2 linked regions of the Homo sapiens genome follow. The protein of the gene in region 1 purifies or fractionates together with the protein of each later gene. This does not show direct contact. Each region holds a gene or a part of one and is shown in the gene's direction. Other genes may lie near its edges.

Region 1 (3,822 bases):
TTTTTTAAAGTAAAATTTTTTGTTTTTTTTTTTGAGACAGAGTTTCGCTCTTGTTGCCTAGGCTGGAGTGCAGTGGCACGTTCTCGGCTCACTGTAACCCTCTGCCTCCCGGGTTCAAGCAATTCTCCTGCCTCAGCCTCGCAAGTAGCTGGGATTACAGGTGCCCACCACCACGCCCGGCTCATTTTTTGTATTTTTAGTAGAAACGGGGTTTCACCATGTTGGCCAGGCTGGTCTCGAACTCCTGACCTCAGGTGATCTACCTGCCTTTGCCTCCCAAAATGCTGGGATTACAGGCGTGAGCCACCATGCCCGGCCCAAAATTTTAATTTAATCAAATTTGCACGTCCTTTTTTCAAATCTTTCAAAAGCATTATCCTATCCTATGACTATACCCCTGCTTGGAAATGAATATAATTTTTAAAAATACATGAAAGAAAAGTGCCTCCAAGTGTTAATATGTTGAGTGTAGGTTGATATAATTCTGGATGACCTTTTCCCTATTTTTATTCTTTACTGTGATTATGCTACTTTTATAATTATGTTATTTTTACAATGAAACAAACAAAACATGAAACGAAGTGCCTTCCAGAGTTGAGATGGGCGCTAGGTTCCCATCCGGTGACCTGTGGCACCCTTTCCACCTGGCCCTGCTGCGGACGGCCACGCATGCTCCAGAGCCTCTCCCCGGGCACATGGGCTGCAGCTGCTGTGGCCCAGCCCCAGCACTGTGAGCCAGCAGGAAGCCTGCACTGAGCTCTGGCTTGTGTCTGTTCAGGAGGAGAACATTTGCCTGCACTGGGCGGCGTTCTCCGGCTGCGTGGACATAGCCGAGATCCTGCTGGCTGCCAAGTGCGACCTCCACGCCGTGAACATCCACGGAGACTCGCCACTGCACATTGCCGCCCGGGAGAACCGCTACGACTGTGTCGTGTGAGTGCAGTGCTTCCCCCAGCGCGGGCTGGCGCTGACCTGACCTGGGCGCCCAGAGAGACCGCTTGACAGTCTTGTGTTCACACTTGGGGCGTGAGTGGACACAGGCCCTCTGTTCCTTCGTGTGGAAGTCCATCCTTGGTGTTCCACACGCAGAGAAGTGTCTTTCCCAGTCCACGTTTGAGATCAGCTGTGGTTTATTTCTGGGTTAGGGAGGATTGTCATGAAAAAATTCCCAAGTTGGAGTCTCAGACCTGATACTCCTCACATGGCTGAGGGGCAGCATGGGAACAGCCCTGCTCCCAGCAGGGACCTGCCAGCTCAGAGTCCCCGAGAGGCTCAGGGTGCCTTCTGGGAGCAGTGCCACCCACAGCCAGGGCTGGAGTTGCTGGGGGCTGTGGCACTCGCCACTCAGGGCCCTTTTAAAACTTGAGACCTTCAGCTGGGTGGTGGTGGCTCACGCCTGTAATCCCAGCACTTTGGGAGGCTGAGGCAGGCAGATCACCTGAGGTCAGGAGTTTGAGACTAGCCTGGCCAACATGGTGAAACCCCATCTCTACTAAAATACAAAAATTAGCCGGCCATGGTGGCATGTGCCTGTAACCCCAGCTACTCCAGAGGCTGAGGCAGGCGAATCGCTTGAACCCAGGAGGCAAGAGATTGCAGTGAGTGGAGATTGCGACGCTACACTCCAACCTGGGCGACAGAGTGAGATTCTGTCTCAAAAAAAACCCAAAAAACAAAAAAAGCTTGAGACCTTGATCCCATAAAGTCATCCACACTCAGGTTGTTGTTGGTGGCCTGGGATGGAGTGTGTGTTTGGCTGCTGGGGAAGGACAGGGAACTGTGGGTGCTCCAGGCACCAGCCTCCAGTGACTCCCTGGCCCCTACACATGGGGCTGTGCCCTCCCACATGTGGATCTCACGGTGGCTCAGCCAGGTTGGTCATCTGGTTGTGTGAAGCCCAGCTCCACGTACGATGACTGCAGTCTGGATGCAGTGAGCAGGAGTGGAACTGAGGACTGCTCACGCTGTGCGTGGCCCAAGCTTGGCCTCTCTCCCTCCTTGCTTCCCTTCTTATCCTTGAGGGTAAATTTGAATGAAAAATCCAAGAAAAATCAAATGCCGCCCTGGATTTTACACTCTTCCTGCTAAGAAAACAGCCTGCTGACTTTGACAGTGAATGTGGGAGAGGAGGAAGGGAATCATGTTCCTGGGTGAGCTAAAGCCCGTCTTTGCAGAGTCATTGCTGAGCAGACTTGTTCAAGTTATCTCACAGTGAATAGTGTTCCCTTTATTGTTAGTGATGACGGACATTTTATAAATCTCATCTGTATCACATTTTCAAGTCAGCTTTAAATGTTTTGTGGCCTTACATTTTCCCTTTTAGCCTCTTTCTTTCTCGGGATTCAGATGTCACCTTAAAGAACAAGGAAGGAGAGACGCCCCTGCAGTGTGCGAGCCTCAACTCTCAGGTGTGGAGCGCTCTGCAGATGAGCAAGGCTCTGCAGGACTCGGCCCCCGACAGGCCCAGCCCCGTGGAGAGGATAGTGAGCAGGTGAGCCCAGCCCCAGGACGGCTTTGTGGCAAATCAGCGGTCAGCAGGGCTTTGGGAACTTGCGGTGAAAGCTGCTCCTGAAGCCGAAACATCCCCAGGCTGCAGTCCAAATTGTCAGGGCCAGGTGTTTGCCAGCCGCCCCACTGCACGCTGTGCCACCCCCTGGGCAGAGCACGTCAGCCACCAGGTGACACCTGTCCTTTCCATGGCAGGGACATCGCTCGAGGCTACGAGCGCATCCCCATCCCCTGTGTCAACGCCGTGGACAGCGAGCCATGCCCCAGCAACTACAAGTACGTCTCTCAGAACTGCGTGACGTCCCCCATGAACATCGACAGAAATATCACTCATCTGCAGGTGAGTGACGGCAGATGAAGGGCTGACTCAGGCCAGGACATGGGACAGGCAGAAGCTTCTTGAGCCTGGGGTCCTGGGTTCTCACCACTCAGAGCAGGAGGGCTTATGGGGGGCTTCCCAGGAAGACCTCATTCTCTTTGTAGTTGCCTCCCGTGAAAGAGCTGGAAGGCAGATAAAGGTTCTGTCAGGCCCAGCCCTGGGCCCTCTCATTGCTCTTCCAAGGCTTCTTACCGACCCAAAGCAGTGGCAGGCATCTTTGTGCCTTTTTTGTAACCTCACACTCAGGGGCCCCGGTGTGGCTTCGTGCTGGGGGCACAGGCGAGAGGAGCCCTTGCGAGGCCTGCAGGACGACCTGGATCCCTGCACCTCCCAGCCCCCGGAGAGATGGGTCCAGCACATGCCAGCTTTCCCAGCCTCCGAGTGCATGCAGCCTGGTGCCCTCACTGCTTGCGCCTTCTCGAGCACTTTCCTTGTGGCTCTGCTTGTGGGCAGCTCCCTCCTCTTCCCAGGCCGGGCACTGCCCAGGCCCCCCCCCCCCCCCGCCCCCCGCCCCACAAGGTGTGTCAGGCTCTGTGTTCTTGCCTTTCCCATCGAGCATCTGGCCACAAATGCAGCCGCCGCCCAGCCCTTCACCCACCCCACGTCACCCACTGCCGCGTCGCTGCCCTGCCTGCCCCCTGTCCCTCTGTCAGGGTCCTCAGCCAGAGCTCCCTCCCACAGGCACTCGACATGTTTCTGCCTGCACAGCCTTCTCCCTAAGAGGCCACACACTCACGTGGTGCCTTTGAGAAGCACTTACCAGAATCAGGGTTAACAGAACTGGAAGACGTAGTTGTGACTGGGAGGGGAAATGGAAGGCCTGTGCCTGCACGTCTGACCCCCCGGCGCCTCTCTTCTCAGTACTGCGTGTGCATCGACGACTGCTCCTCCAGCAACTGCATGTGCGGCCAGCTCAGCATGCGCTGCTGGTACGA
Region 2 (2,585 bases), on another chromosome or scaffold:
TAATGTGGATTATCTCTTTTAATCCTTAGTAACTCTATAACAAAGATACTATCATTATCCCCTTCTCATATATGCTTAACAGTTTTAGCTTTGTAGCTTCTTTAGTTTTTTTCCTCCTTCAAAGCCATAAACAGGCAATTGTTAAAAGAGGAAAATACTTCTCTATGTAAAGCTTTTTTTTGAGAACAAGAGCTTTTAAAAATTAATAAACACAAGTATAATTTATTTATAAAATGTGTTTGTGGAAACAATACTGAAGTGCTATTAAAACACGTATCATTATAGATGCTGATTTTGTCATGCCCAAATCTCATTGCTGGACAGAATTTCAACTATTCCATTGCTGTCAGGCATTGTTTTTGTTTTTCTAAGCAGGAATCTAAAATTCCACATTGAAAGAAAAAAAAATAACCCTCTCAAGTGTGATATACATTAGGACAAATGGCAACAGGCAGGAAGGGCAGGTTGTGTTGGAGGGTGGCCAGAAGAGAATAAGGTTCGAACACTATCGACAGGTAAAAACACATCCTCAACGGGGCTAAGTGAAATCTCGTTTTCTTTCTTTGTTCTGACTGAATGCTAAGTGAGTTACTTTCCAGGCATCAATGGAGTCATTACGCAGTTGTGTGCATTAAGAATATGGGCTTATGTTGTTAGCCTGTTGGTTTAAAGCAGTGCAGCAGAAAGACTGGAGTCATTATAGGTTTGGTTTGTCAAAGGCACAGATAGTGTAGTTACATGCATGAGGTACTCAAGGAACCAGTTCAAGTTCTGGGGCACAATCTAGATGAAACTGTGAGGTTTGTTCAAAAAGTAAGTGTACAAAATTTCATCATGAACTGGCTTTATTACAACTCTTTACCGTGGTTTATTGAAACCACAATGTATACTACTTTCCTCCAGATTCTGATTCTAATGGGCACATTTGTTTGTTGAAATGATAAATATATTTTCCTTGTCAAACATGGTGGGTCCTGGTTGATATCTCCTGTTTCCTGCCTTGAAAAACATCCTTGTTGGTGCCTTTCTCCCACTTTGGTACATCACTCCCAACTGAAAACAGTCTAGATATAAACTTTAACAAGCTGGAGATCTATTTCTACAGCACAACTCTTTCATGTTTAAAAGCAATTATGCCGTATCAGGTGATTGCCACATGTTGGGGAAAGCAGCCATCTTAGAGCAAAAGTCTGCCAACCCACAGTCCCTGTTGATCCACATGTGGGCATTGTCTAATGTTAACAAAATCAGCACTTGTAGACTTACTTTCTCTGAACAATCTAGTACACTTCTCTAGTTTCTCCCAACCTGGAGAAAATGTATAGCAAAAGCCAGAGGCAAAATTATTCTCCTTAGCAGTTCTAAGTATTTCATGAAAAAGCCTTCCCCCAGTTTAAATGCAGAGGCTAAGGTGATGACTAACGAATTAAGGAAAACTTTGGCTCAGATCAGCAAAATTATTTTGGAAACTTAATGTCCCAAGTTAATTATTTTTTTTATATCAAGGGGAAGACATCCAGTTCTGTAGGATGCTAATAGAAGTGTGATATTTAGATGCTATTAGGACATTGTATACATTTCTTTAATGTGGTTATTTTAAGTTTAGGACTGTAAATGTTCCCTACTGGAATAGAAATATGTCTCTCTCCAACTTTCCACCAAATAAAATGGTTAGAGTGAATGCCCAGTTTCACATCTGCCTTTTGGAGTTTGGAAAGCTTAAACAAGTCAGTTAAGAGAATGAGAAGAATCTCACTGTGGGTGATAAGGAGTGTGTAGTTTGCTGTAAGGGCCACTGATATGACAAGAATGATTATCCCACAGTAAGAATGGGTAAAACTTAATAAAGTTTTCTAACTTTATTAAACTCACATTATTTAATGAAAAAATAACTGCAAAGGACCAATGAGATCATGCATGCTGCTGTATTCTTGTGATGGAATCTACCAGGATTAAGTTGTATTTAAATGAAAAAACAGGTACACATTTAGAGATCATTGACCAAGAAATGTAAATATATTTGATTAATAAAACGTTTTTATGATGACTCGATCTTCCCTTGGATTCTGTCTTTTCCAGTCCCACAGTCATTTTTCAAGCACCATCTGATTCTAGTGTGCAGCTTAGGTAGTAGGCAGTCAACAAACTCTTGTTGGGGAAGTATAAGCTAGAAAATACACCTAGCAAGCAGGAAGGTTGTTAAAATTCAGCCCTGAGGTTTATTCGGATGCATTTGAGATTACTGTTTTCCTTATTCATGTGCTCACATGCTCATTTGCCCAACCAAGTCAGGTGCACAGCTTCTTAAGGAAACTGTGCGCAGAGACCCAGCCACAAATCTGTGGCAGGCTGGACTTGATATTTGACCTCTAACCCCATAAGCTTTGGAGCACAGCAGAAAGCACTTGCCCGGAGAGTGGCCTGGGGCTATGACTCTTCTGAATGTATGTGATTGGGGGCTCTCAGAAAGAAAGCCAAAGTCAGCTGTTTGTCTCTTGTTCTGTTGGAAAATAAAATTTCACTTAGAAAAAATATGTGAGCATGTAGGAATAGCAAGAAGGACACTGATGCTGGAGTGGATTGAA

What was found.
Region 2: the proteins of EHMT1 (region 1) and PRDM6 purify together in Homo sapiens (affinity purification with western blotting, with the first as the bait; one study listed by BioGRID). This does not show direct contact.

Annotation. Positions count from the first base shown.
Region 1 is NC_000009.12:137,810,683-137,814,504, forward strand, and holds part of EHMT1 (histone-lysine N-methyltransferase EHMT1), read left to right. Parts: intron 1-778; coding exon 779-933; intron 934-2,323; coding exon 2,324-2,491; intron 2,492-2,703; coding exon 2,704-2,848; intron 2,849-3,748; coding exon 3,749-3,822. UniProt on the Homo sapiens protein: Histone methyltransferase that specifically mono- and dimethylates 'Lys-9' of histone H3 (H3K9me1 and H3K9me2, respectively) in euchromatin.
Region 2 is NC_000005.10:123,192,215-123,194,799, forward strand, and holds the end of PRDM6 (putative histone-lysine N-methyltransferase PRDM6), read left to right. Parts: 3' UTR 1-2,052; downstream 2,053-2,585. UniProt on the Homo sapiens protein: Putative histone methyltransferase that acts as a transcriptional repressor of smooth muscle gene expression.